4 linked regions of the Homo sapiens genome follow. The protein of the gene in region 2 binds, or shares a complex with, the protein of the main gene of each other region. Each region holds a gene or a part of one and is shown on either strand. Other genes may lie near its edges. The genes, in order: HUS1, RAD9A, RAD1 and RHNO1. A codon is read from its position in the direction of its gene.

Evidence for each region.
Region 1: the proteins of RAD9A (region 2) and HUS1 are in contact, whole or in part, in a crystal structure (PDB 3GGR), measured with the Homo sapiens proteins. Residues at the interface, in NP_004575.1 of Homo sapiens: Leu157, Pro158, Pro161, Val176, Ala186, Lys191, Ala192, Met193, Val194, Thr195, Glu196, Met197, Cys198, Leu199, Gly200, Asp203; in NP_004498.1 of Homo sapiens: Thr84 (codon at 1,921), Asn87 (codon at 1,912), Arg90 (codon at 1,903), Ala91 (codon at 1,900), Lys93 (codon at 1,894), Thr94 (codon at 1,891), Phe110 (codon at 1,843), Ser121 (codon at 231), Ser123 (codon at 225), Ser126 (codon at 216), Arg127 (codon at 213), Ile128 (codon at 210), Val129 (codon at 207), Thr130 (codon at 204), His131 (codon at 201), Asp132 (codon at 198), Ile133 (codon at 195), Pro134 (codon at 192), Ile135 (codon at 189).
Region 3: the proteins of RAD9A (region 2) and RAD1 are in contact, whole or in part, in a crystal structure (PDB 3GGR), measured with the Homo sapiens proteins. Residues at the interface, in NP_004575.1 of Homo sapiens: Leu76 (codon at 2,216), Ser82 (codon at 1,485), Val83 (codon at 1,482), Ser86 (codon at 1,473), Leu90 (codon at 1,461), Lys92 (codon at 1,455), Leu112 (codon at 1,395), Phe116 (codon at 1,383), Gly117 (codon at 1,380), Val118 (codon at 1,297), Arg119 (codon at 1,294), Lys120 (codon at 1,291), Thr121 (codon at 1,288), His122 (codon at 1,285), Asn123 (codon at 1,282), Leu124 (codon at 1,279); in NP_002844.1 of Homo sapiens: Glu165 (codon at 6,136), Ala166 (codon at 6,133), Ser168 (codon at 6,127), Glu169 (codon at 6,124), Asn195 (codon at 3,849), Ala196 (codon at 3,846), Gly197 (codon at 3,843), Ser198 (codon at 3,840), Ser199 (codon at 3,837), His200 (codon at 3,834), Leu201 (codon at 3,831), Asp202 (codon at 3,828), Tyr203 (codon at 3,825), Pro204 (codon at 3,822), Asp206 (codon at 3,816), Ser207 (codon at 3,813), Glu211 (codon at 3,801).
Region 4: the proteins of RAD9A (region 2) and RHNO1 are in contact, whole or in part, in a crystal structure (PDB 8WU8), measured with the Homo sapiens proteins. Residues at the interface, in NP_004575.1 of Homo sapiens: Val41 (codon at 2,321), Ser44 (codon at 2,312), Arg45 (codon at 2,309), Ser46 (codon at 2,306), Ala47 (codon at 2,303), Tyr48 (codon at 2,300), Glu130 (codon at 1,261), Leu132 (codon at 1,255), Gln133 (codon at 1,252), Ala134 (codon at 1,249), Val135 (codon at 1,246), Glu165, Tyr181, Glu183, Thr216, Phe217, Cys218, Gly244, Pro246, Val261, Leu262, Ala263, Thr264, Leu265, Ser266; in NP_001239428.1 of Homo sapiens: Thr88, Lys90, Phe91, Pro92, His93, Leu94, Thr95, Phe96, Glu97, Ser98.

What each region holds. Positions count from the first base shown.
Region 1 is NC_000007.14:47,976,604-47,984,419, forward strand, and holds the start of HUS1 (checkpoint protein HUS1), read right to left. Parts: upstream 3,013-7,816; 5' UTR 2,917-3,012; coding exon 2,865-2,916; exon of another isoform or gene 2,807-2,864; intron 2,214-2,806; coding exon 2,086-2,213; intron 1,991-2,085; coding exon 1,814-1,990; intron 235-1,813; coding exon 127-234; intron 1-126. UniProt on the Homo sapiens protein: Component of the 9-1-1 cell-cycle checkpoint response complex that plays a major role in DNA repair. The 9-1-1 complex is recruited to DNA lesion upon damage by the RAD17-replication factor C (RFC) clamp loader complex.
Region 2 is NC_000011.10:67,387,956-67,394,989, reverse strand, and holds the start of RAD9A (cell cycle checkpoint control protein RAD9A), read right to left. Parts: upstream 3,005-7,034; 5' UTR 2,946-3,004; coding exon 2,912-2,945; intron 2,830-2,911; coding exon 2,759-2,829; intron 2,749-2,758; exon of another isoform or gene 2,475-2,748; coding exon of another isoform or gene 2,337-2,474; coding exon 2,208-2,336; exon of another isoform or gene 1,501-2,207; coding exon of another isoform or gene 1,495-1,500; coding exon 1,380-1,494; intron 1,300-1,379; coding exon 1,200-1,299; intron 1-1,199. UniProt on the Homo sapiens protein: Component of the 9-1-1 cell-cycle checkpoint response complex that plays a major role in DNA repair. The 9-1-1 complex is recruited to DNA lesion upon damage by the RAD17-replication factor C (RFC) clamp loader complex.
Region 3 is NC_000005.10:34,905,492-34,912,509, forward strand, and holds part of RAD1 (cell cycle checkpoint protein RAD1), read right to left. Parts: intron 6,322-7,018; coding exon 6,063-6,321; intron 3,866-6,062; coding exon 3,767-3,865; intron 3,458-3,766; coding exon 3,274-3,457; 3' UTR 104-3,273; coding exon of another isoform or gene 40-103; 3' UTR 1-39. UniProt on the Homo sapiens protein: Component of the 9-1-1 cell-cycle checkpoint response complex that plays a major role in DNA repair. The 9-1-1 complex is recruited to DNA lesion upon damage by the RAD17-replication factor C (RFC) clamp loader complex.
Region 4 is NC_000012.12:2,880,212-2,887,229, reverse strand, and holds part of RHNO1 (RAD9, HUS1, RAD1-interacting nuclear orphan protein 1), read right to left. Parts: intron 2,069-7,018; exon of another isoform or gene 1,948-2,068; 5' UTR 1,864-1,947; coding exon 1,696-1,863; intron 1,428-1,695; exon of another isoform or gene 1,333-1,427; intron 1,278-1,332; exon of another isoform or gene 904-1,277; intron 253-903; exon of another isoform or gene 119-252; intron 1-118. UniProt on the Homo sapiens protein: Involved in microhomology-mediated end-joining (MMEJ) DNA repair by promoting recruitment of polymerase theta (POLQ) to DNA damage sites during mitosis.

The sequences.
Region 1 (7,816 bases), on a different chromosome or scaffold from region 2:
TAATCTAATGTTTTCGTTAAGTATCCTTTAAAAATAAAATATACTGCAAGACTACAACTAAAACTAGAGAATTCAAGTCATGCCATTTAATGTGGGGTGTACAGCAGGACTGCAGGCATCACCTACATCAGGATCTGGGACCACCGGTTCTTGTAAGTCCTTCCACAATTTCCTAGGAATCACCTTTATGGGGATGTCATGGGTCACAATGCGGCTACTGCTTGACATAGATAACTGCCAAGAAAAGAATTTAAAAATATTTTTATGTTGTTAATATTAAGCAACAACAAAACAAACCCGAAGACCCGGGACAAAAAAGTTGAAATACCAAATCTAAGTGGAATGCTGTCAGTTTATTCACTCAAAAGCCATTCGACCAATATTGATGGTGCCAATATTTATGGAACAGACTCTGGGTACTTCCAGGAACTGGGAAGTGTGGTGATAAGACAAAAAGGTCCTTAGTGTTCCAGTGGAACAAACAGATCAATAAAAATGCAAACAAATGAAACTGTATGAAATGCTCATTATAGCCGTGAGAAAGCACTCCACAGAGACCAGGGTGAGTGTGGGGGAGTTTCCTTAGACTGAGGAGGTGACATTTCAGATACCACCAAAAGCAGGAGAAGCAGCAGCCATGGGAAGACAAGAACAAGGGGACAGGGTTTCAGGCTGGGGAAACAGCACATGTAAAGCCGTGAGGCAGAAAGAAGCAAGCCTGCTATGTTGACGCAACCAAGAGAAGGCCATTCTTTGGGCATAGGACACTCAGAGTGCTGCAGTTTCTAACAGTTAAAAGGCAAACTATATTTATTTCTAGGGGCTCCTATGAGACTCACAGACCAAAATATCTTGCACTTTTGGACAAAAAGTATTATACGTTACTATCTTGCTTTTCCTTAAGCAATAGAAAAAACATACCAAACTTATACTGTGACATGAAATGCCCTAATTAGCTCTGAGAACTGCCTGACTGCAAAGAGTTGAGAGTTATGAAGAAAAGCTGGGCTGGGCGCCGTGGCTCATGCCTACAATCGCAGCACTTTGGGAGGCCGAGGTAGGTGGATCACTTGACGTCAGGAGTTCGAGACCAGCCTGGCCAATATGGTGATACCCCGACTCTACTAAAAAAATACAAAAATTAGCTGGGTGTGGTGGTGGGTGCCTGTAATTCCAGCTACTCAGGAGGCTGAGGCATGAGAATCGCTTGAACCCGGGAGATGGAGGTTGCAGTGAGCCGAGATCGCGCCACTGCACTCCAGCCTGGGTGATAGAGAGACTCCGTCTCAAAAAAAAGGAAATACGAACCTCATTCTATGAGTAGGAAGAGCAACTCTGGATTGTATGTATGCGCATGAGTTTGTGTATTTGTGTGTTTGGAGGACAGCTGTGCACTAAATTCATCTGGCAGTAGCATATAAAACATACGTGTACTGAAGAACGAGGGGCCATTTAAAGGTTATTATAGCAGATGAGGCAGGGTGGGAGTGGGGAGAAAACATGTCAAAGGTGAAAATGGATAGAGAAACCATGATTTCTAGACAAGGTGACAATACCACTACAAGAAACAGAGAGGCTGGAAGTTTCACGGCTTGGAAAAAGCAGCATTCTAGCTGAATGCATATGATAACAACACAATTTTAAAATGAGGAGGAACTGACTCTAATGCAAAATATAGTTATGGACCAGATCTTTAAATTTAAATAAACCAAACAGCTTTCAACAGTATTTATTGTTAAAAAGGCTAGGCTAACTATGTCTATTCCTTCGAGGCCAAGACTTCTGTGTTAGAAACCCTGACTCTCCTACTCACCAGCTCCACGGAGACCGTGAGGCAGGGAAAGTGTTTATTAGTCAGTTTGATTTTCAAAGCCCTGGCATTCTGGGCAGTCTTCAAGGCTCGAGATAAGTTTTCCGATGTTAGCTCTAAATAAATCTCATTGTTTTCTGCAGAGACACCCTCCATTTGAAATTCGTTGAAGAAGTTCTCCTAAGGGAAAAAAAATGAGGGATGAGGGAGGGTATATGTGATCTTTCCAGTGACAATCTGCAGAGTGTGCAGGCCTCTCAGAAGCTTTTGCTCACCTGTTCCAGCTCACACCACATGCTCACTCCTCCATTAGCCAGCTTGTCACAAAGGATGAAGTTAAGCTTATCAGGGCTGATGCGGAGGGTGCAGGTTTTGGCAAGCTTGGCTATCATGTTACTGATTCCTAAAGCAGGGGTTAAAATAAGGAATTACTAAAATGCACATTATGTATCCTAGAGACCAACTTATTTTGCAGAATTTCTTGTTCATCAACTTCTCGGTGGAAAAATAACCACTTAACGTTGGTATCACACTGGAAAGTACTTTAATACCCCTGATGTCACGCAATTCTCCCAACAAACTAGGGGAGATGTACAGCACACATCATCAGTGTTCAAATAAGAAAACAGGCACCTACCAGTCATTCATTCATTCAACATGGATTTATTGACTACTAGGTACTGCAATACACAGTTAAATGCAAGGTTAGGCACTGTCAGGGTGGAGGGACGAATGGGGCCTTGAAGGTATGTCAATGCCTGATAAAGCCGTCTATGGGAGCAGTGGCCGCTTTTTTTTAAAGCCACGTGATCGGAATCAAGTTTCAGAAACGTCCCTTGAAAGCCGCCTTCATCCCCACAAGTGCCCTCCGACCCGCCCCGCGCCCTCCCGGCCCCACCCTCCCGCGGCCTACACCAGCACCCCCATCCCGGCCCCATCCTCCCGCGGCCCCTTCCGGCGCCCATCCCCGTTCTGATCCTCCTGCGCGGTCCCCACCGCGCGCTCACTGCTTCCTTCCGTTCCTCCCTCGCTCCTCTCCGGCCTCCCTGCTCACGTGTGAAGTGGTTCAGACAGGCCCCGTCCACGATCTTGGCCCGAAACTTCATGGCCGCGGATGGCGCAGCCGCGGCGGGCCTCTGTGGGTAACAGAAAAGCGTCGCGCCCTGAGTGTCCCCGCCCGGAAACACGGCAGCGCGAACAGTGGTTCCGCCCGGCTCGGGCTACGCGACTCTTACCAGGGTTATCTCCGGGCCACGCCCCGGAGGAGGTGGGGCTAGGGGGTCACGCCCTAGAGGAGGTGGGGTCACGGGTCAAGGATCACAGGTCACGCCCCGGGGGAGGTGGGGGTCCCAGTCTCCGGGTATGCCTCCGCGCTGCCGGGTAATGGTGGGATCTACTTTTAGTGAGGCGGAGGCTTCAAGCCCCAGATTCGGGGAGGTTGTTCTGAGAATTCACGTTTTGAAAGAATTTTGTGACACCTATTTCAAGTGTTATTTTAAAATATCCAAATAAAATTAATCGTTTATAAAGGTTAAACAATATTATCTTAAATATACCTAAGGTAGAGCAGCTTTAAACCCTCCAGCCTCAGATGACGGTACTGGTACTTTGGTATTGAAGCATCTTGGTGGATTAAGGTTCTGAAAATTGTTTCAAATGACTTCTAAAAAAATTGAACATATTACTGGCTAGTTGGTAAAGTCGGGAAGCTTAAAGAACACTGACGTTAAGTGATAATTCTGCAGTTTGCCTCAAGACGAACTTTATTACATCCGATAAAATTCTTATTAGCATAAATAATGTCATTAGGATTTTTTTTAAAGGAAAAATTTTAAAGGGGGAAATGAAGCAACAATTGTATCTAATTTGGTTTTTCAAAGACTAAAGATTATCTGTGTTAACAATTGTTATTTTTAATGTCCTTTGCAAATAGACTAGAACCTTGTCTTTAACTTGACACATAGAATCAAGATAATGATAATGCAGATGATGATGATGATGATTTTGAGACGGAGTCTGGCTCTGTCGCCCTGGCTGGAGTGCAATGGCGTGATCTTGGCCCACTGCAACCTCCACCTCCCGGGTTCGAGGGATTCTCCTGCCTCAGCTTCCCAAGTAGTTGGGATTACAGGCACAAGCTACCATGCCCGGCTAATTTTTGTATTATTAGTAGAGACGGGGTTTCGCCATGTTGGCCAGGCTGGTCTCGAACTCCTGACCTCAGGTGATCTGCCCACCTCGGCCTCCCAAAGTGCTGGGATTATAGGCGTGAGCCACCGCGCCAGGCCCAGATAATTTTCAAAGACACATGCACACATATGTTTATTGTGGCACTATTCACAATAGCAAAGACTTGGAACCATCCCAAATGTCCATCAATAATAGACTGGATAAGGAAAATGTGGCACATATACACCATGGAATACTATGCAGCCATAAAAAAGGATGAGTTCATGTCCTTTGCAGGGACATGGATGAAGCTGGAAACCATCATTCTCAGCAAAATATCACAAGGACAGAAAACCAAACACCGCATGTTCTCACTCATAAGTGGGAGTTGAACAATGAGAACACATGGACACAGGGAGGGGAATATCACACACTGGGGCCTGTTGGGGGGTGGAGGCCTGGGGGAGGGATAGCGTTAGGAGAAATACCTAATGTAAATGATGAGTTGATGGGTGCAGCACACCAACATGGCACATGCATACCTATGTAACAAATCTGCACGTTGTGCACATGTACCCTAGAACTTAAAGTGTAATAATAATAAAAAGGTGCAAAATACAAAAATTGCAGTTTTTGCCTATTTTAAGACTATAACATGAAGCAAAATTCTAATCTTCATTGTCATATGCGAGTGTTTGCCAAACCAAACTTAATAGATCACTTTCAAAGTTATGCCAACAGGCAGGGCAGGATGGCTCTCTCCTGTAATCCCAGCATTCTGGGAGGCCGAGGCGGGTGGATCATCTGAGGTCAGGAGTCTGAGATCAGCCTGGCCAACATGATGAAACCCCGTCTCTACTAAAAATACAAAAATTAGCCCGGCGTGATAGCTTGTGCCTGTAATCCCAACTACTCAGGAATCTGAGGCAGGAGAATCACTTGAACCCAGGAGGCGGAGATTTCAGTGAACAGAGGTCTGCCACTGCACTCCAGCCTGGGCGACAGAGCGAGACTCCGTCTCAAAAAAAAAAAAAAATGTTGGCATAACTCTTTTTTTTTTTGGAGACGGAATCTCGCTCTGTCGCCCAGGCTGGAGTGCAGTGGCGCAATCTCGGCTCACTGCAAGTTCCGCCTCCCGGGTTCACGCCATTCTCCTACCTCAGCCTCCCGAGTAGCTGGGACTACAGGCGCCCGCCACCACGCCCGGCTAATTTTTTGTATTTTTAGTAGAGACGGGGTTTCACCGTGTTAGCCAGGATGGTCTCGATCTCCTGACCTCGTGATCCGCCCGCCTCGGCCTCCCAAAGTGCTGGGATTACAAGCGTGAGCCACTGAGCCCGGCCATGCCAACATTTTTTATTTGCCCCATATGATCTGCAGGAAAAAGCCTGTTTTTTAATTTCCTCATGAATGAGTTTTGAAGAGTTGAGCATCACATTAAATAAAGTGGCTGCTAGTAGATAAATGAATATAATTAAAGAATGTATCTAAATAAACTTTGTAAACAATGTTTTGTAACATCTTGATCTTTAGTGTAAATTGCTTAATTTTATGTCATAAAAACTGATAAAGCAATTTTTTAAACTTCCTAAGAAGATGTGATATGATACATTCTGCATGGACAAAAGCCCAAATAATATAGGAATTTGACTCAAGAAATAGAAAATAAAGCTGCAATTATCTTTTCTTGGAAGAAGAAAGGAATCTTTTATGTGCTCTTGCAATTTTCTTAAACAGGTTTAGCAAATTAATTCATTAACTTCAGAATTGACAATTAAGTATATTGACACTACTTCTCTACTTTCCAAATGATTTTGAGGCAAGGAATGTGATCTCTAGAGATTTCTAGAAGCCCCATGTACCACTGAGTTTTCTAATGCAATGTATATTCATGTTCTCATCTAGCTACAGTAAATTGCCTTCTGACTTAAGAACTGCCAAATGTCAGGGATTAGTAATTCAGTCACACAATGATTTGGGAAACAGTGTTCACGCTGTTCATTAAGTTTGTTTAGTGGGGAGGTAAATGCCTTAATCTTGTCTTAGAAACTGAAATAAACAGTGGTGCAAATAAAATGTCATTCAGGATGCATATAGTTGGAAGTAAGGGAAATAACCTCTCTACAGCTGCAGATGGTAAACTCTGTCTAGGTAAGTATTTGGCCAGTCTCTTTCAGGTACTTACTCATCTTCTCTAGTCCCTGGGGGAAGAGACAGCAATTTGCAGCCCTGTTGTTAGCAGTTAATGTTGGAAAAATTACCCAAGGGAAACAACGTGACTAGCTCACATGTTACGCATCAAATTTGAAAGGCAGTATTTGTCTTCTTTTTTTAACATGAGAAAACTGTAAAATGAAGGAAAGCATACCCTAGAGGTGGCATGAGTGAATGTCTTTTGACAACTGTACTTGTTCTAAGAGATGGGTTTTTGCTTAAGCAGCTCTTCAAAGACTCTTCTCCTCTTTTAGGTGTCAAAAAAATTCTTCAATAAATTCCATAGATACTTTTCTAAATGAAGATTTGTGGAGCACATGAGAAGTGTCAGGCATGGTGGTGAGTGATGGGGATTAAGGAAGGGGACCAGCCCCTACTCAAGAGGAGGGTGATCAACATTTATTGGATGCCTTTAAAGCACTATTTAAATATTATTGATCAGTAGGGTGAGATAGATAGCTCTCATTTTATAGCACTCTGCACTGATATCATCACTTAGATAATATAAACACACGTAAAATAAGTATGATTATTCCCATTTTATTTTATTTTATTTTATTTTAGATGGAGTCTTGCTCTTGTTGCCCAAGCTGGAGTGCAATGGTGCAATCTCGACTCACTGCAACCTCTGAGTCCTGGGTTCAAGTGATTCTTTTGCCTCAGTCTACCGAGTAGCTGGGATTACAGGCACCTGCCACTACACCCAGACCATTTTTTGTATTTTTAGTAGAGATGGGGTTTCACTGTGTTGGCCAGGCTGGTCTCAAACTCATGACATCAGGTGAGCTGCCTGCTTCAGCCTCCCAAAGTGCTGGGATTACAGGTGTGAGCCACAATGCTCGGCCTATTATTCCCATTTTAAAGATGGGGACAGATAGAATTGGCAATGTTGGCCATGGCATGCCCTACCTCACACTCTTGATGAGAATCTGCATCACTGGATTGCTGAGTGTCCAGTGACCCACATGCTCCTGCTGACTGGACCAGCTCTATTTACACTTGACCTTCAGGAAAACAATTGATAGTGTGGAAATAAATGAAGACCAACCAAATGGAACAGGCAAAGCCTATTTATTCAGAGTCAGCCATTATCACTTGCATTTCAGCAGAGACTCAAAGGCAGGCAGAGAGGTAGGAACGCTTCATAGTGGAAAAGGAAGGAGAGTATAGTGAAGTAACAGAAGAGGTTACAGAGCATGTTTATTTACCAGCTAAAGCTAAAGTGGCAAAGGAAGGAGAGGTTCATCCCTACCCTTCTGCACCCCCTTATTTCCTCCTGGGAAATATTACTGATGAATAACATTTTATATACGGCATTTTGCACATGGTAAGTTTTTTAGTCAAAGGATATATTCATCTCGATTTTTATAGATAGGCCAAGTTCCCTCCATAAATGTTATACCTATTTGCATTTCTTCCAGCAACGTGTGAGAGATCCTGTTTCCCCAAAGCCTTGGAATAAAACATTATCAAACTTTTGGATCTTTCTAATTTCATCAGTGAAACATGGTACAGTATAATTTTTGCCATTTTTCTTAAGTAAATAAGCTTGAATATCTTTCATGTGCGTCTCTAGATGATCTGTTTACTGGCCATTTTTCTATTGGGTTATTGATATTATAA
Region 2 (7,034 bases):
CCAGCCTGGGTGACAGAGCGAGACTCTATCTCAAAACAAAACGAGAGAAACAATTGCTCATTTTTAAAAAAAGAGACTGAGTGTGGTGGCTGACGCCTGTAATCCCAGTACTTTGGGAGGCTGAGACGGGCAGATCACCTGAGGTCGGGAGTTCAAGACCAGCCTGACCAACATGGAGAAACCCTGTCTCTACTAAAAATACAAAAAATTAGCCGGGCATGGTGGCGCATGCCTGTAATCCCAGCTACTCGGGAGGCTGAGGCAGGAGAATCACTTTTATCGGGAGGCGGAGGTTGTGGTGAGCCGAGATCGTGCCATTGCCTGGGCAACAAGAGCGAAACTCTGTCTCAAAAAAAAAAAAAAAAGACACCACCCTAAATGCAGACCAAGGAATTGGCCCCCGTCTCTCACTACCCAAAAGAGCTCTGAGCAGTGCTGGCTCAAAAGAACCTGGGGAAACAGATGTCAGGACCCAAAGGGATCTTCAGTCACCCTGAGAAATGAGCAGGACCTTGGGCCACTTGAATGCAAGCAGTGACCAGCATGGAGCAGGGGGAGAGCCCACTCCTCTCTGAGCTGGTCCTCGCCAGGGACGTTTGCTTCAACTGGAGTCCCCATTTCCCTGGCCCCAGACAGCCCCCAGTGCTCGGACTGCCCAGAACAGCTCCACCCCATAGCTGATTATTCAGCCTCCCTCCAGCCTCCTGCCCTGGCCTTGGGGACTCCTCGATCCTGGGCAGTCAGGAAAAGAGGCTGCCGTTGAATGGGGAACACCTCTGGAAGGATGCCCAGGCCGGAGAAGGGGTCTGAGCCTCTGAGCCACAGGTTATGGGCAGACCTTCAAGGTTACTCAAGCCAGACAAGAGATTTGGTGGCAGGCCAGAAATGTGCTCCCTAGAGGAGGAGTTGGAATGGGTTTGAGCAGCCAGAAAGTCAAGTCAGACCTTTGGGATGGAGAATGCAGGCTCCTAACAGTAAGGAGAATGGAGCAAGGAGGCGCCTGCCCCTCCTCCATGCCACCGTCTGCCTTTAAAGAGCCAGGTAAGGACCTGAGCACATAGCGGGCCATGGGATGTCTTTGAGGTTCACAGAAACTCTGTAGGGAAAATGAAAGAGGTACCTTCTAAAATCAACCCCTTGGGGCCCCAAAGAAGGAAGAGAGAGACCCGGGGCTGAGCTGAGGGCAGGGGTGTGCTCACCGTGCTGGGGCGCGGAGCATGTGGGGGCACGAGGCTGGGTCGAAGACGGCCTGCAGGGACTCACAGTCCTGGAAGGACAGGTTGTGAGTCTTCCGCACCCCTGGATGGGCGATAGGGTCTCAGTGGGCCTCGCCGACCTCCCTGCTGAGGCACCCCTTGGCTGGCCGGCTGCCCACTCACCGAACTTGCAATGCAGCTGGACCACCAGGCGGCTGCTCCGGCCATTCAGGGAGATGCAGCATTTTTCCACCGTCTTCTCCAGCATCGCCAGTGAGCGGAAGACAGACAGGAAAGACTGCATGGGATAAGACACCTCAGCCTAGCATCACATCTCTGCAACAAGCTCTCCTGTCCCATGCAGGCCCACACCCATCATGGGCCCAGCATGTAACTCTGGGAAAAGGGCTCCCACGTCACCTCGGGCACTGGCATCCTTCTAGGCCTCATTCATGCTCTTCCTTATGCTTGGAATGCCTTGAAAGACCTGCTTACCTTTTTTTTTTTTTTTTTTGAGATGGAGTCTCGCTCTGTCACCCAGGCTGGAGTGCAGTGGTGCGATCTCAGCTCACTGCAACCTCCACCTCCCGGATTCAAGCAATTCTCCTGCCTCAGCCTCCCGAGTAGCTGGGATTACAGGCGCGTGCCACCACGCCCAGCTAATTTTTGTATTTTTAGTAGAGACGGGGTTTCGCCATGTTGGCCAGGCTGGTCTCGAACTCCTGACCTCGTGATCCGCCTGCCTCGGCCTCCCAAAGTGCTGGGATTACAGGCGTGAGCCACCGCGCCCGGCCAAAAGACGTGCTTACCTTTCTTGACGAACTTGAGCGTCACCACCCTCTCAGGTCCCCGCTGTGATGCTTTTACCATGGCCCTCCCTGTGTTTTGCATGGATTGGGCTTGCACGTGTCTCTCTCCCCACTTAGCATCTACTGAGTACCCCAGGGCAGAGGCACAGCTGGTGGAGATTCCTGGGGTGGAGTAGTGCCACTGCTGAGGGAAGGGCCTCACCTTCATCAGGATCTTACAGCGCAGCAGGTCCTGACCAGGGGTGGCTGCCTGGTATTGCTGGAAGAAGAGCGGGGCAAAGAGAAAGCAGGCATAGGCAGAGCGGGAGGAGTTCACCGTCCGGAGGGAGAGCTGGGCCACGAAGAGCAGGGAGAGGGACGTGGTCAGGGGGCAGCCACAGACCCAGCCCTCTGGCTGCTTCTGCTCACACACTTGCCCTATCGTCCTCCCGCTCCGCCACCACCTGCTGAAAAACCCTCCTTTCCCCATGGAAGCCTTCAGAGTCGGCCCCGGCGCTGCTGCCGCAGAGGAGGGGTCGCACACCCAGGCCTTCCCCGAGTTTCTCTAAGTGCACGTCACCCCCTGGGAGCTCGCAGGACAGCTTTCCTCAATTCACACACCGGCCTGGGAAGATGACAGCCGCCAGACTAAGAAACTGAAACTTTGCCGACAAATCTGCCAGCGGTCATCCCGCCTAGTGGGGGCGAGACTCTAGTCCGGGTTACCCGCTCCCGGCTGGAGTCCCACCCGCCCCCCACACCCTAGCCCCTCACCCCGTCCTCCAAGGGTTCCAGGTAGAGCTCGTCCCCGATGCGGGACAGGGAGTGGACGGCCTTGCCGAGCACTGCGGGGAGAAGAGCGGAAGGGGGTTAGGCTGGCGGCTCCGCGGCTGCTGCACCGCCGCTGCCAGGCCGACCTGCACTCACCCTTCACGTTGCCGCCCGTGACCAGGCACTTCATGCTGCCCCAGCGCTCCGCCAGCGGCCAACACTGCCCAGCTCTCCGCGACCTCCGGGTCCGGGGTCCCTTCCCGCGCACCGCCCCTGCCGGCCCCGCCCCCGCCTCCCCATTGGTCCACGTGCAGGCGCCTCCGTCACGTGAGAAAAACGCTCACAGGCTCTGCCGTCACGTGACGGCGCACGTTGTCCGGGGTGTCACGTGACCGGGGAGGCCCGCGGCGCCCGCCAGCCAGCTGCTCCTGGCTCCCCCGGCACGCCTCGGCCTTCCGTGCCCCTGGAGATCGGGGCGTTCCGCGGGCCGCGCACCGGATTGCGAAGGTCAGAGAGGACGCAGCTGTGGGGCGCGAGGTCCCTGTGCAGTGGACCGAGTGCTGGACTCGGAGTCGGAGTGTGGGGGCGAGCTCTCTGGGGTCACCCACTTAGTAGAGTTCCCGGGCGTCTGCCGGGGGATACAGGGTGCAAGCAAGACCATCGCACCCACTCTGGGCCTGAGACTCGGACTCCAGCAGCAATCCCCAACTCTAGAAAGAAGTCAAAGCAGCTTGCTTGCAGCAGCCGGGAGTGGGAGGTGGCTGCTCCTTCCGGCTTCGAGGATCCTTTAAGGAAAAACGGCAGTTTCTCCAGGCAGAAAGGGGTAGAACGGTGCCCCTGGCAGAGGGAAGAACAAGAGTAAATGCTCAGCGGTGTGGGCTCCGCCCCCTGGAGAGGGGAGTAGGTCTGTGAGTCTCAGAGAGGCGTAGGGGCCGCCAGATGATGAGGGGCACCGCTGGGACGCTCTGGAAACGTTTTACGAGGGTAGATCGTGGTTATGTGCCTTTTTTTGTTTGTTTGTTTTTTGAGACATATTCTTGCTCTGTCACCCAGGCTGGAGTGCAGTGGCGCGAACACGGCTCACTGCCGCCTGGAACTCCTGGGCTCAAGGGATCCTCCCATCTCAGTCTCCTGAGTATCTGGGACCACAGGCACACCCACCACGCCCGGCCCTTTTTTTTTTTTTTTTTTTTTGGGTAGAGACGGAGTCTTGCCATGTTGCCCAGGCCGGTCTCAACTGTGGGGTTCAAGCTGTCTTTCCGCCTTGGCCTCTCAAAGTGGAGTGAGCTACTGCACCGGCCTGTTTTTTGTTTTTTGTGTGTGTGTGTGGGGTTTTTTTGTTTGTTTGTTTTGAGATAGAGCCTCGCTCTGTCGCCCAGGCTGGAGTACAGTGGCACGATCACGCCTCCCAGGTTCAAGCGATTCTCCTGCTTCAGCCTCCCAAGTAGCTGGGATTACAGGCGCCTGCCACAACGCCTGGCTAATTTTTGTACTTTTAGTAGAGACGGGTTTCACCATGTTGGCCAGGCTGGTCTCGAACTCCTGACCTCAAGTGATCCGCCCGCCTCGGTCTCCCAAAGTGCTGGGATTACAGGCATGGGCCACCGCGCCCAGCCCCGGGTCTGTATTTTTAAAAGACCCCAGACTGGCCGGGTACGGTGGCTTACGCCTGTAATCCTACCACTTTGGGAGGCCGAGGCGGGCGGATCACGAGGTCAAGAGATCCAGACCATTCTGGCCAACATGGTGAAACCCCGTCTCTACTAAAAGTACAAAAAGTAGCCGGGCATGTTGTCACGCGCCTGTAGTCCCAGCTACTCTGGAGGCTGAGGCAGGAGAATTGCTTGAACCCGGAGGCGGAGGTTGCAGTGAGCCGAGATCGCGCCACTGCACTCTAGCCTGGCAACAGAGTGAGACTCCATCTCAAAAAAAAAAACCAGACTGTGTGCCAGGTGGGGATGCATCAGCTGGAAGGTATTCCCCTTCCCCTGGGCTTCCGGGTCCACGTGTGTAAAATGTAAGGGAGTCCTGGAGAAACTCACTGACCCCTACTCTCCCCACAGTACCAAGGCTCTGGTAGTTCTTGGAAGGGCCCAGGGCATCCCTGTATTCCTGCAGGGCCTGCCCGTGCCTTGCCCCTCAGGTCCTGTGGTAGTGCAGAAGATATATTTATCTCTGCCACCCTTGCTCTCCAGACCCACTTTCAAATGAGTTGAATTGATACATAATAATTGTACACATTTGGATACATGCATACACTTTGTTTCTCCCTCTCCTTCCCTTCTGCTCCCCTCGTCACCAGCCCTTGCCCCTTCCGTGGAGCCTTGGGGGAGGAGGTTACTCTTCCCTTCCCCTTCCCGGGGGATCCATGGAAATAGTGCCCCTGTCCCTGGGCATCCGGCTCAGTATGCTGGAGTCATCCTTGACCTCATGCTCGCCCTCACCCCTACACAGTCTTTCAGTTAAGTCCTGACCACTCTGCTTCCCAAACAGGTGGCAACTTAACAGGTGGCAACTTTGCCCTCCTCTTCCATCTCCAAGGCCTAGGCCACCATCCTCTCACCTGGATGACTGTAACAGCTCTCAGTGGTCTCCTGCCTCCACCCTGCCCCCTCCAGGCCACTCTCCATACAGCAGCAAAGTGACCCTCCTAAAATGTCCATTGTGTCATGCCTCTCCCGTGTTTGCACACTCCAGTGGTTGCCATAAAATCCAAACTCTGCCCTGAACCTGCAGGAGCCGCCGCCACCCATTTCTCCACCTGTGGCCTCCCCTTGATCACCTGCACAGCCATGCCAACCCTGTGGGCTCCCTGAACCCTCCACTTCCTTTTCCACCTGGGGATTTTAGCACATCCTTAGCTGTCCCCACCACTTGGCATCGTCTTACCCCTTCTAACGTGGCGGTGCTTCTCTTCCTCCAGGCTCAGTGCCGTCTTTTCTGCCCCCACCAGCATCCCATTACACTCTAGCTAGACCCTGTTTTAGCCACAGCACTTATCACGTTATTTCATGCGTGTGTTTGCCTGTTTAACATCTGTCTTCCTCACTAGTGTGTCTGCCTCACAAGGGCAGGAACCATGTCTGGTTTTTGGTTTTTTGTTTTTTCTGAAGACAGAGTCTTGCTCTGTCGCCCAGGCTGGAGGGCAGTGGCGCGATCTCGGCTCACTGTAACCTCCGCCTCTGGGGTTCAAGCAATTCTTGTGCCTCAGCCTCCCAAGTACCTGGGAATACAGGTGTGTGCCACCACGCCCGGCTAATTCTTGTATTTTTATTAGAGATGGGGTTTTGCCATGTTGGCCAGGCTGGTCTCAAACTCCTGACCTCAACTGATCTGCCCGTCTCAGCCTTCCAAAGTGCTGGGATTACAGGCGTGAGCCACTGCACCCGGCCTTGGCTTTGTTTTGTTTGTTCTGTTTTGTTTTGTTTGTTAAGATGGGTTCTTGCTTTGTCACCCAGGCTGGAGTGTAGTGGCACGATCATAGATCACTGCAGCCTCAACTTCCCAGGCTCAAGCGATCCTTCCACCTCAACCTCCCGAGTAACTAGGGCTACTGGCGCATGCCACTACAGCCAGCTAATTTTTTAAATGTTTGTTAGAGACAAGGTCTCCTTCTGTTGCCCAGGCTGGAGTTGAACTCCTGGGCTCAGGCGATCCTCCTGCCTTAGCCTCCCAAAGTGCTAGGATTACAGGCGTGAGCCACCACACCCAGCATCCATGTCTGTTTTGTTTGTTGCTGTATGTACCTCACACAGGGTCTGGCACTCAGTAAATAATGAATAAATAGGTGTTACATTTAAAAATGTGTAAACCAGCCGGGCGCGGCGGCTCATGCTTAATCCCAGCACTGTGGGAGACCAAGGCTGGTGGATCACTTGAGCCCAGGAGGTGGAGATTGCAGTGAGCTGAGATAGCGCCACTGCACTGCAGCCTGGGTAAGAGAGCCAGACCCTTTCTCAAAAAAAAAAAAAAAAAAAAAAAGTAGGCCGAGCGCTATGGCTCACGCCTGTAATCCCAGCACTTTGGGAGGCCGGGGCAAGTGGATCACCTGAGGCCAGGAGTTTAAGACCAGCCTGGCCGACATGGTGAAACCCCATCTCTACTAATAATACAAAAATTAGCCAGGCATGGTGGCACGTGCCTGTAATCCCAGCTACTCAGGAGGCTGAGGCAGGAGAATCGCTAGAACCTGGGAGGTGGAGGTTGCAGTGAGCCAAGATCGCGCCACTGCACTCCAGCCTGGGCAACAGAGTGAGATTCTGTCTCAAAAAATGAATGA
Region 3 (7,018 bases), on a different chromosome or scaffold from region 2:
TTAAAGTGGAATTTAACAAATACTTTTATTATTTTGAAGCATTTCATCAATTCTCGGTGGAAGCACTACATCATCGAATGGGAAATCAACAAATGAAAAATGAAAAAAAAGATTATCCATTCACAGTAAGCACCATTTTACTAGAAAGAGAGATAAACTTCAAAAAGACAGAACTAAAAGTCTTTAAATATAAGACTGTATTCTTCTATATACTACACATCAATTTGTAGTGGCACCAAAGTGTCGCCTGCTCTGCCTGAGGGAGCACTCCCCCTAGTGATTTTCCATAGGAAATAAAGTTAAACTTTTATTAAAGTAAAAATTCCTGGGTCAATTAGAACACAAATAAGGAGGAAATTCTTTATAAAATAAGTACCTTGATGTTAGGGTGACTTAGAAACAATTCATTAGTCTTTGAATTCTAAATAGCTGAAGACATGCAGCTAAAACAATAATTTTTATTTTAATTTTTTTTGTTTTTGAGACGGAGTCTTGCTCTGTCACCCAGGCTGGAGTGCAATGGTGCAATCTCGGCTCACTGCAACCCCCGCCTTCCAGTTTCAAGTGATTCTCTTGCCTCAGCCTCTCAAGTAGCTGGGATTACAGACACCCACCACCACACCCAGCTAATTTTTGTATTTTTAGTAGAGGTAGGGGTTTCACCATGTTGGCCAGGCTGATCTCGAACTTCCTGACCTCAGATGATCCCCCTGCCTCGGCTTCCCAAAATGCTGGGATTACAGGTGTGAGCCACCACTCCCGGCCTAAAATAATAGTTTTAAATGTACAAAAATATCCATCCTTACTGAGCTGATTTATATTTGTTTTAAATTCTTTTTAGATTCAACTTTTAAAAAATACATTAGGCCAGGCATGATAGCTCACGCCTGTAATCCCAGCCCTTTGGGAGGCCGAGGCGGGTGGATTGCTTGAGCTCAGGAGTTCAAGATTAGCCTAGGGAACATAGTAAAACCCCATCTCTACAAAAAATACAAAAATTAGCAGGGCATGGAGGCATGCACCTGTAGTCGTAGCTATTTGGGAAGCTGAGATGGGAGGATTGCTTGAGCCTAGGAGATTGAGGCTGGAGTGAACTGTAATCCTACAACTGTACTCCAGCCTGGGCAACAGAGCAAGATCTTGTCTCCAAAAATAAAAATAAAAAAACTGAGATCAAAATAAATTTAGAGCTAAATCATCAGAATTAAGTAGTGACTAATAAGATGCTAAAAGAAAATCTGAAATTGGAGAGTCTTTCATCTAACAGAGTTACTAAATGCCCATTATATGTTAGGCGCCGTTCTTTGTTCACACTAGTAACAAAAGACAAAAAATAACTATGCTATTTCACATTTAACAGTCCTTAGAATGTTGACTGATTAGATATTTTCCCAAGTATCTTTTAGGTTTGTTCTGTTCTTGGTGGTTATCTAAACAAAAAATACTCTGACAACATTTAGTAAATTCATTTGTTTCCTTCTTGAATACAAACATTTTAGAAAATTCCAACTTCTTTTGTAGTCACTGCTAAATTTTGTATGCTGAGATTGAGACACTTACTAGTTATCAGGTGCTGACCCTGGCCACCTCCCAGAATTGTCCATATGCCTGGGAAGCAGTGCCTGCCATTGTGCTGGAGTAGCCTCCTTGCAGCACACTTTGCTGTAATACTCTCCAAACCAATTTTCTCTAATGCTATGTGACCTATATTAAGGTAGGGCATTCCAATATATCCTCCAATTTTGGTGAATACAATTGAATGGTTCTCAACAATGAATAGTTTGGCACACTTTTATTTGGGGGAGGTGGGGTGGTCACAATGACTAGCATCAGTGGGTAAGGGCCAGAAAGGCTAAATGAATCCTGCAATGGGATGACAGGTTTTTATCCTAAAGAACTGTCTCACTCAAAAGGCCAATAGTGACTGTCCATGGAGGGACACTCAGCTGTTGTCACCTGGTACAGTAACAAAGACAGAAGCTTCACTTTACTCATGTAATTTTTTCTACTAGACAGGAAGATAATTTTTGCATTTTATTAAATATATTTATATGCCACAAAAATTATTTTAGTGACAACTACCAGGAAAGTACAAAATCACTTAATAACTGGTTTTCTACACCTTGATTTGTCAAGAAACTCATAAGCAAATGGAAAGTAGTAAGTACTGATTGCAGTTACTTACAGCAAACAGTTTTGAGAAGAAGAAGAAAACCTGTAACACTGAAAATTGCTTTATATCCCATTCATAGATCTCTTCAAAAGGTCTACTTTAAAAATAAATCACATAAAGAATTGTTCAGACTTGTTTGGTGATGCCTCAACTTCAGAACATTTGCAAGGAAATCACATGTAAAAGCAATCATCTCATACAATTAAATGCTATTAAAGAAAAAAAAAGTTTCCTTTAAAACAGTGGTTCCCAAAATTTAGCAGGCATCAGAATCTCCTGAGGGAAGCTTGTTAAAATACAGAATGCTGGCCTCCTCCCCAGAGTTTGCTACAAGTTTGCAGGCCATTCTGATGTTGGTGCGGGCACAACACTTTGAGAACCACTACTTTAAGATCTAGTCTCTAGAATTCAAACTAATAAGCAATGCCCATATGCCTTTGCTTTTTCTAATAATAAATAAATAAAAGATCATTTCAGGTAGCTGCATCAAACTTTAAGCCTTTAGACTTTTTTTTTTTTTTTTTTTGAGGCAGAGTTTTGCTCTTATTGCCTAGGCTGGAGTGCAATGGCGTCATCTCAGCTCACCACAACCTCCGCCTCCCGGGTTCAAGCAATTCTCCTGCCTCAGCCTCCCGAGTAGCTGGCATTACAGGCATGTGCCACCACGTCCGGCTAATTTTTTGTATTTTTAGTAGAGATGGGGTTTCTCCACGTTGGTCAGGCTGGTCTCGAACTCCTGACCTCAGGTGATCCGCCCACCTCGGCTTCCCAAAGTGCTGGGATTAAAGCCACCACACCCGGCCACCTTTAGACTCTTGAAATGTTACGCTGACTCACAATTATTCCCATGAGTTCAAAAGACAGAACTAAAGGACAGTCCTGAATAATCTATGACTACAGGAAAACATTTATTTACATGCCCTCTACAAAATGGATTTACAAAACATAGTAACTATTAGGGTACATGACCTTGCTCCTATCTTCCCCATTGTGCTTCTTCTCTATAGAAAATCCAATATGAAATGACAAAGAGTACTGTACTCAGAATAAGAACTTCATCTATCATAAATGTACACATAAATATCAGTGAATTGTCATACTCAAGACTCAGATTCAGGAACTTCTTCATCAGGGCAGCAGTAATATTCCACAAAACATATTTGTCCATCTTCATTTCTAATCATATACTGTAATGAAAGGAAGCCTCTGTTATCTGTCCGAATAGATACCTTACAAGATAGGACTAATGCCTTTGTAGAGGGTTTCAGTAAGGAAATCTTGTATCTGTAGAAGAAAAAATAAAACGCTGTTATATCAACACAGTGAACACTGCTCAGAACTCCCAAGTAAAGGATAAAAAGTAGCAAATCTAAGAATAAAATCAAGTACTTATCCAATTTGCTAATATTTTCTGTTTTAAAATTCATTCACTGTTAGAACCCTACATCCCCTAGTAAGTCCAGCACTCTACTATTCATTTTTATAAAATGCTGTGCATTTTAATTAACAGATTGAAAGTGTTTTTATTTAACAGAAATCTGGTATTTAACCTCCTCTTTATCACCAATGACAACCTCTATATTAAGAACTGACCTGTTGACTTGGGTCTGATTACAATGAAATGCTTCCATCAAATCAGAATCTTTGGGATAGTCAAGGTGGGAACTTCCTGCATTTCCAAAAGTAGATAACCTATAGAAAATGATTACCTCATTTATTCATTCATCCAAAAATAAACCACATTAGGATCCAAATAAAGAAAACACTTCCTTAAGAAATTCATACTAGTGGGTGAAACAGACATGTACACAAATGCTTATAACACACGATAACAAGTACCATAATAAAGCTCCCACTGGAGTTCAGGACAACTAATCAATGGGTTTGAAGAAAATCAATTGTAAAAGGAAAAGGGTAGGGGACACTTTAATTTCATTACCCTAATCCTACTCTGAAAATGACTTTTCCTCATCCTTAAGTCAGAAATATATAACAGGCGAGAGAATTGAGGACTCATGGAAGACCTTGATCTAAGTCTACTGCAACCCTTAGGTCTGTTCCCAATCCTACACCTAGGAATTACAGCTTTTCTGTATCTTAGACTGCTCTTAAGGCTATTGCATGGTTTTCCTCACTTGGTAATACCAGAAGTTATTTGTAGACAATTTATAAGTGTTAACATGCTGATTTAATTTGCAAGAACTCCTGGAACATTTGCTGCAGGATTAGCACGTTGCTAAGTATTATATGAGCATGGCGATAAGATCCAGGTTGGTTTTCCCTAAGCTCCATTTCTGCCTCCCATCTTCCAGGTGTGGTTTTCCTGGGGTCCATCTTTTCTTTCTTCTAATATAATCTCTCTCTCTGACCCGTCTCATCCATACCCAGCCATGATGATGGTTCCCAAATCTAAATTTCCAGTCTAAATGGATCTCCTGAGCACCATAACTACATATCCAGCCACTCCCTAGTGTCGCAGGTACTTAAAATTTAACATATCCAGGAAAAAATTTCAACTCCTACCTCCCTACCACCAAATTGTTTCCCATCCTGGAGATGAAAGATACCATGGTCCATCTCGTTACCCAGGCTGAGAGAGATCACTGAGGAGATCCCCTGAAATACTGTTTTAAGTACCTGAATTTTTTACTTCATTCCACTGCTAAAGTAAGGTTTCCAATTTCCATTTTGGTTAACTTTCTCAGACCTTGAGCCAAATTTTTAACTCCCCAAAGTCATGACAAGGGCCTGTGATTCTTTTTCTTTTCTTTTTTTTTTTTTGAGACAGATTCTCACTCTGTCACCCAGGCTGGAGTGCAGTGGCGCAATCTCAGCTCACCGCAACCTCCACTTCCTGGGTTCAAGTGATTCTCCCACCTCAGCCTCCCAAGTAGCTGGGATTATAGGCACGTGCCACCACGCCCAACTAATTTTTCTATTTTTAGTAGAGACAGGGTTTCACCACATTGGCCAGGCTGGTCTTGAACTCCTGACCTCAAGTGATCTGCCCACTTCGGCCTCCCAAAGTGCTGGGATTACAGGTGTCTGCCACAGCACTTTTACAGCCGGGCCTGTAATTCTTCTAAAGTAGTTACAAAAAGAATACCTTATTCCTTTTATTCCATATGTATTTAGGGGCTTTAATATTCTGAAATATTTCAAAAAGAGAATATTTAGATCCTCTCTCTAAATTGCTAGAATCTCTGAGTCTAATCCTGAAAAGAGACTTGTGTTAAACTATCAAGAACAGCTTTTTTGACATTGTACTCCTGCTGAAAACTGCCCTCCCTTGGGAAGCCAGCCTTGAGCAATCCTCCCTAAATCCTTATACAGCATTTCCCAGGTATCTGTGTGTGCTATCTTGGTACTTAATGGTTTGCTGTTTCACATTTTCTTGGCTTCACCTTGGTTTTAAGCTGTTCTTCCCACAATGCTTAATAAGATGAATAAGCACACGGTAGGTGATCAACAGATACTTAGTGAATGAATGAGCCACGTGTAGAAAACATCTTCTTCTGCATCCTGAACTAACTTGAAAAAGATACCATAATACAAACACCCTTTCCAAACACTTAAACCCAATTTTCCTCATGATGTAACCTGATCTATGAAAGTAAGGAGTAGTACAATGAAAACACCACCAGTTTATAAATTAGAGGACTGGGCTTCTCATCTAGATGCCACCACCACCTAAATATGAAATAGTGAGTTAATCTTCCTGGGTCTTAAGTTTCTTGATCCATAAAATTATGAGGTAAGAGTACAAGCTGTCTAAAGTTGTGAAAACTCTAAAAATGTGGATAATAAAAATTTTGCATCCTAAGCAAATGTCTAAGTGGGAAGATGGAGTACAGACCACATTAACTATAACTGCACTGCTCTCAAGTACCTGAAATAAGGCTTGTCAGGAGACATGGTAATTTGTAGGACTTCACTCGTCATATCCAATTCAGAAAATGCTTCACGGAGCCCCTCTGACTGCAGAATAATTTTATTAATAACATTGGTGCTGCAGAAATCAAAGTCCAGGGTCTCCTCAGGTTCCTGTGTATTGATTTTGCAGACTGTCACCACTCCTCCTTCTTCCAGGAACAGCATCAAAGGGTAACCATAACCTTGGTAACACATTCGAAGTGCAGTTAAAGTCCCTGCAATGGAAAGAAGTCATACTTGGCCTTAGCTTTATAGTTCTGGGTTCAGCTTCTCCTCGAAATGATACATAAAATTTCTCAAGAATAATTTATTCCGCCCAATTTCTCACATATATGTATCTCCTCATAAAAAGGGATGACATCTTCCCTGATGACAGTTGTGTGTAGAGAATTCCAAAACTACAAGAAAATTGGGAACCAGAACAAAATGTAACATAATTCTTTGGAATCATTTTCAGGTTGTCATACACACCTCAGAAATAGCTTGTTGATTTTATATATGTACAATTTCAGGGTAGAGAATCTATATGGATCAACACAGCAAGTAACTAAATTGCTGCAGAACAGGGTATGCTATTCCTTGAAGGTTCAATGTGTGTAACAGTGGATTGCTGTCATCTGTACTGTAACGTCAGTGTACTCACTATGACAAGGATCCTTCCAACTTTTCCAACTGGGAGATATTCTTTATATTTCCTCGAATTTAAAAATCAAATTGAGAGAAAAAGAGGGTTGTTAATGGTGGTGTAAATTTTAACTCTGCAAACCACTAGAGGGAAGGAGGAATATGACAGGATATTCAAACTCCTTCTCCTTACTGGATTGAGAGCCACAGTGAGGAATGGAAGATGACAGATGCTTCTGTGAAAAACTAGCTGGAGAACACTGTATTAGAAAATGTATAATTAATAAT
Region 4 (7,018 bases), on a different chromosome or scaffold from region 2:
CTGGGATTACAGGCATGAGTCACGGCACCCAGCCAATTTTTATATTTTTAATAGAGTCAGAGTTTCACCGTGTTGGCCAGACTGGTCTCAAACTCCTGACCTCAAGTGATCCACCCACCTCAGCCTCCCAAAGTGCTGGGATTACAGGCGTAAGCCACAACACCTGGTCTAGATATAACTTATTTATCTTTAAACTTCATGAGGGTAGGGACCAGTGGTCTTGTTCTTGATTCCCAGCACCTAGCAGAATGCCTGGAACAAAGAAGGCCCTCAGTTAATGAATAGCCAACTCCAAGCATAGCGGGTGAGAACTAGCAGAGGACCTGGCATATAATGAATATTCAATAAATGTTCATTCCTACTCTCATCCACAGGATTCTGATGTTTAGGTTTCTTCCACAATCCTGTAGCAGGTATTATGGTTCTTCCAAGCAGTCCTGAATAAGTTACATTTATTAAATACTCCTAAGCCAAGCTTATGCTTTTGTCTGGCCCTTTTACTATACTACTTTCCTGTTGTATAGTAGCTATATTCTCTTCCCAGGGTTTCTATTTTTTTTTTTTTTTTTTTTTTGAGACAGGGTCTCACACTGTTGCCCAGGCTGGAGTGCAGTAGCACAATCTTGGCTCACTACAGCCTTGACCTCCCGGTTCAAGAGATCTGCCCACCTTAGCCTCCCAAGTAGCTGGGACTACAGGTGCGCACCACCATGCCCAGCTAATTTTTCTATTAATATTTTTAGTAAAGATGGGGTTTCACCATGTTGCCCAGGCTGGTCTCGAACTCCTGGGCTCAAGCAATCCTCCTTCCTTGGCCTCCCAAAGTTCTAGGATTACAAACATGAGCCACCACACCCGGCCTCTCTTCCCAGGGCTTTTAAGCGGTCAAAATATGACATATGCTATTCTTATGGGGTTTTATTTTTCAAGGTTCAATCCATTACACAATAAACAGAGTATCTAGCCAAGTACTCCACCTTTCACATGAAGTTGAGGGAACAATCTCATTTTTAACTTGTTCTGCCATTTATCTGGCATTCTCACCCAGCTAATGGGTAAAAAAACTTTTACAATGAACTCTTTCAGAGGAAAATAGGGGAAGAGAAAGACTCCAGTTCCAACTAACCCGTTCCTCAGTTTGAACTGAGAAAAGAAGATGTACCAGGGAAGATGGCTGGCCACAGACAGAATACATTAACTCCTTGCCCCCGCCCCCATGAATCTTATTCTTTGGAGTCCCTGGTTCAAGGGGCAGAAGAGTCAGCATTCTGGAAAACCTAACAGAGTAAAAGTCAAAGTAGGCCGGGCAGAAGAGTCAGCATTCTGGAAAACCTAACAGAGTAAAAGTCAAAGTAGGCCGGGCGCGGTGGTTCACGCCTATAATCCCAGCATTTTGGGAGGCCGAGGCGGGCGGATCACGAGGTCAGGAGATAGAGACCATCCTGGCTAACACGGTGAAACCCCATCTCTACTGAAAATACAAAAAAATTAGCCGGGCGTGGTGGCGGGTGCCTGTAGTTCCAGCTCCTCGGGAGGCTGAGGCAGGAGAATGGTGTGAACCCAGGAGGCGGAGCTTGCAGTGAGCCAAGATCGCGCCACTGTGCTCCAGCCTGGGCGATAGAGCGAGACTCCGTCTCAAAAAAAAAAAAAAAAAAAAAAAAAAAAAAATGTCAAATAGTAATCCCATGGGCCTACCCAGGAAGTGATGGTGCTGTGGTCAATGGGCTTGCTGGGCACCTGTCGAGTGTGAGTGATGGGAAGCTGTGTAGATGCACAGCTGTGTTTGGGGCCCTCCAGTGGTTGTTGGTGGAACAGCAGCGGGGCTTTCTGGGAAGGCTGGCGGCGTTTTTTTCTGGGAGGCATCAACCGGTGAATGAGGAACAGTTAGTAACCACATGATGCTGTTAGCCTTCGGGTTGGGGGATAGGCTCCAATTCCAACCCATGCCTGTAGAGAAGAAACAAAAGCTGGGAGCAAATAATTCAGATGATTCCCCAGTTCTTCCTGATCCTCTGCCAGCCAATTCTACCATAAACTTCAAGGCTTTGGGGAGCACAGCCTCCTATACCTACAACCACCAAGCAAAACACAATATTCATATTCAACATTCATCTAACGAACATTTATTGAGTATGTGCTAAGTGTCATGCTGGGTGCTGGGAATTTAAAGATGAATAACCATTTATTCAACAATCATTAACTGAGTGCAAAGCACTTGTAGTGATACAGAGGTCATCCCTGTTTCGAGGAGCTGAAAGTCTAGCAAAGGGAAACAGACATTTACAACACTGTATGAGAATACAGTATGGTTCCATTCATTCCAAAGGAGGCTTTCTGGAAAGGGAGATACCTGACCTAGGTATGAAAGGCATAGAAGAAACAAAAAAGCAAGGAGGGCACTCCAGCCTGAGGAACAGTGTACACAAAGGCATGGAGACGAGACGGAGTATTGTGAATTCTGGGAATTACAAATTCAATGTATCTGGACACAGTATGAGAAGATAAATGGCAAGAACTCAGGATAAACATGGTGTCAGGCTGAGGTTAAAAAAAAAAATAGGTGACATGGCTGGGTGAGGGGGCTTACGCCTGTAATCCCAGCACTTTGGGAGGCTGAGGCAGGCGGATCACCTGAGGTCAGGAGTTTGAGACCAGGCTGGCCAACATGGTGAAACCTCGTCTCTACTAAAAATACAAAAGTTAGGCTGGGAGTGGTGGCTCACGCCTCTAATCCCAGCACTTTGGGAGGCTGAGGCAGGCTGATCACTTTAGGCCAGGAGTTCAAGGCCAGCCTGGCCAACATGGCAAAATCCCACCTCTACTAAAAATACAAAAACTAGCTGGGCGTGGTGGCACATGCCTGTAGTCCCAGCTACTCAGGAGGCTGAGGATCACTTGAACCCAGGAGATGGAGGTTGCAATGAGCTGAGATTGCGCAACTGCACTCCAGCCTGGGCAGCAGAGCTAGACTCTGTCTCAAACAAACAAACAAACAAAAAAGATTAGCCGGGTGTGGTGGTGCATGCCTGTAATCCGAACTACATGGGAGACTGAGGCAGGAGAATCGCTTGAACCTGGGAGGTGGAGGTTACAATGAGCCGAGATTGCACCACTGCACTCCAGCCTGGGAGACAAAGCGAGACTCGTCTCCAAAACAAACAAACAAACAAATAAAAAAAAACAGGTGACACCATATGAGTTTGGACTTTAAGCAGAAGAATTTGATCCCACCTGGCTTTTAAAAAATTTTTCACTCCAGATAATGTCAAATATATACTAAAGTAGACTGAATAATGTAATGGACCCTGTGTACCAATTATCCAGCTCCAATAACTGTCGGCTAGGCTAATCCTGACCCATCTACACCCCTAGCCACTTCTTCTATCCCTGGATTATTTGGAAGAAAATATATTTGGCCGGGCGCGGTGGCTCATGCCTGTAATCCCAGCACTTTAGAAGGCCGAGGCGGGTGGATCACCTGAGGTCGGGAGTTCGAGACCAGCCTGACCAACGTGGAGAAACCCTGTCCCTACGAAAAATACAAAATTAGCTGGGCGTGGTGGCACATGCCTGTAATCCCAGCTACTCGGAGGCTGAGGCAGGAGAATCGCTTGAACCCGGGAGGCGGAGGTTGCGGTGAGCAGAGATCACGCCATTGCACTCCAGCCTGGGCAACAAGAGTGAAACTCCGTCTCAAAAAAAAAAAAAAAAAAAAAAATATATATATATATATATATATATATATATATATATTCTATCCTTCCCATTAATATGACTAAACAAATATATAAATTCTTTAACATTAACAAATATCCAGCCAGCCAGTGTTCCCATTTTCTTTTTTTTCTTTTTTTCGAGATAGGGTCTCATCTGTTGCCTAGGCTAGAGTACAGTAGCATGATCATGGCTCACCACAGCCTTGACCTCCCAGGCTCAGGTGATCCTCCCACCTCAGCCTCCCAAGTAGCTGGGACTACAGCTCGTGCCACAGCGCTGGCTAATTTTCGTATTTTTGTAGAAATAGGGTTTCGTTGTATTGCCCAGGCTAGTCTTGAATTCCTGAGCTCAAGCTATCTGCGCACCTCAGCCTCCCAAAGTGCTGGAATTACAGGTGTGAGCCACCACACCCCAGGTTTTCTATGTGTTTTTTTTTTTTTTTTTTTGAGACAGGGCCTTGCTCTGTCACCTAGGCTGGAGTGCAGTGGTGTGATCATGGATCATTGCAGCCTCAACCTCTAAAGCCCAAGCAATCCTCCCACATCAGCTTCCTGAGTAGCTGGAACTACAAGCAAGCACACTGCACCTGGTTAACTTTTTTTGAAACATTTTTTATAGAGATGAGGTCTCACTGTGTTGCCTAGGCTGGTCTCAAATTCCTGGGCTCAACCAATCCTTCCCTCCTTAGCCTTCCAAAATACTGGGATTACTAGCAGTTCTTTAGATAGGCCTTCCCTAATAACTATGTCTAAAATAACAGTCAACTCAACCCCTTGACCTGTTTGATTTTTCTCTATACTTTTATCTTTTGAGACGGAGTCTCACTCTTTCGTCCAGGCTGGAGTGCAGTGGCTTGATCTTGGCTCACTGCAACCGCCACCTCCCGAGTTCAAGAAATTCTCCACCCTCAGCCTCCCCAGTAGGTTAGATTACAGTCACCTGCCACAATGCTTGGCTAATTTTTATATTTTAAGTAGAGATGAGGTTTCACCATTTTGGCCAGGCTGGTCTTGAACTCAGTTGAGACCTCAACTGATCTGCCTGCCTCGGCCTCCCAAAGTGCTGGGGTTACAAGCGTGAGCCACCATGCCTGGCCCCTCTGGTAGCCTTCTAACTGAGTTCCCTGCTTCCTTTTTCCACCCCCATCTCCAACCCGACTTTTCTCACAAGGTGCCTAGAGCATCTTTTTTTAAAGTTTTATTTATTTATTTATTTATTTATTTATTTATTTATTGTAGAGACAGGGTCTTGCTTTGTTGCCCAGACTAGTCTGGAACTCCTAGGCTCAAGCAATCCTTCTGCCTCGCCCACCCAAAGTGTTGGGATTACAGGCATGAGCCACCACGCCTGGCCCAGATCAACTTTAATAAGGGCTTCTTTGGTGGAATGGTGGGACACAAGGTTGAATGCAATAGGTAGAGAGGTAAATGAGAGTTGCAGCTGAGCATGCTGGAAAGACACAACAGAGCAGGTTGGTTCTATGCATTTGTGATCCATTCAATCAACAACAAAAAATAATATGCTTTGACTTATATGACTAGGCAGTAGAGATACAGGTTAAGAAAAAAAAGGACACAGTTTCTCTTTTTTTCTTTCTTTTTTTTTTTTTTGATGGAGTCTTGCTCTGTTACGCAGGCTAGAGTACAGTGGCGCGATCTTGGCTCACCACAACCTCTACCTCCTGGGTTCAAGCGATTCTCCTGCCTCAGCTTCATGAGTTGCTGGGACTACAGGCGCACGCCACCATGCCTAGCTAATTTTTGTATTTTTAGTAGAGACGGGGTTTCGCTATGTTGACCAGGCTGGTCTCGAACTCCTGACCTCGTGATCCACCCGCCTCGGCCTCCCAAAGTGCTGGGATTACAGGCGTGAGCCACCATGTCCAGCCAAAGTTTCTATTCTTAAGGAACTAACATCTTATAGAAAACACAAAAAATATATATATCCATTTGTTCATTCACTCATTCATTCACTTGAGAAATATTTACTGAGTGCCTACTGTGTGCTAGGCACTGTTCCAGGTGCTGAAAATATATACCAGAGAATAACATAAAACCTCTGCCCTTGTGGTGCTTACATTCTAGTCGGAAAGGAATAAAAAGTATAGAGAGGCCGGGCGCAGTGGCTCATGCCCTTAATACCAGCAGTTTAGGGAGCTGAGGCGGGCAGATTACTTGAAGTCAGGAGTTCAAGACCAGCCTGCCCAACATGGTGAAACCCCATCTCTACTAAAAATACAAAAATTAGCCAGGCGTCATGGCACACACCTATAATCCCTGCTACTCAGGAGGCTGAGACAGGAGAATCGCTTGAACCCGGGAGGCGGAGGTTGCAGTGAGCCGAGATCACGCCACTGCACTCCAGCCTGGGCAACAGAGCGAGATTCAGTCTAGAAAACAAACAAACAAAAAGCTACCACAGAAATCCAGTGAAAAGATAACAGTGGTAGCAATGGCTATAGTTTTGAAATTCATGACTTGCTGAAAGTCATCAGCTTCAAATGGGTACGTTGCTCAGCAATCCTGTTTCCTTGATCAACTCATTCTCCACAAAGATTATCTTAAAACTTCTCCAAGCTAGGTGCAGTAGCTCACGCCTGTAATCCCAGAACTTTAGGAGGCTGAGATGGGAGGACTGCTTGAGGCCAGGAGTTCAAGACCAGCCTGGGCAACATAGAGAGACCTCGTCTCTACTACAAATTTAAAAGAATAATTAGCTTGGCATGTTGGCATGTACCTGTAGTCCCAGCTACTTGGGAGGCTGAGGTGGGAGGATCACTTGAGCCTGGGAATTTGAAGATATGGTGAGCTATGATCGTGCCACTGCACTCTAGCCTAGGTGACAGACAGACCCTATCTCAAAATAAATAAATAAAGTGGAAATTTTGTTTGTTTGTTTTGAGACAAAGTCTCACTCTGTTGCCCAGGCTGGAGTGCAGTAGCGTGATCTCGGCTCACTGCAACCTCCTCCTAGGTCCAAGCGATTCTCCTGCCTCACTCTCCCAAGTAGCTGGGATTACAGGCGCCCTCACCACGCCCAGCTAATTATAGTATTTTTTAGTAGAGATGGGGTTTCACCACGTTGGCCAGACTGGTCTTGAACTCCTGACCTCAGGTGATCTGCCCACCTCGGCCTCCCAAAGTGCTGGGATTACAGGCGTGAGCCACCACGCCCAGCCTGAACATTTTTATTTTAATTTTTAAAATTATTTTTAGAGATGGGGTCCTGTTCTGTTGCCCAGGCTGGAGTACAGTGACACGATCATAGCTCACTGCAGCCTCAAACTCTTGGGCTCGAGAGA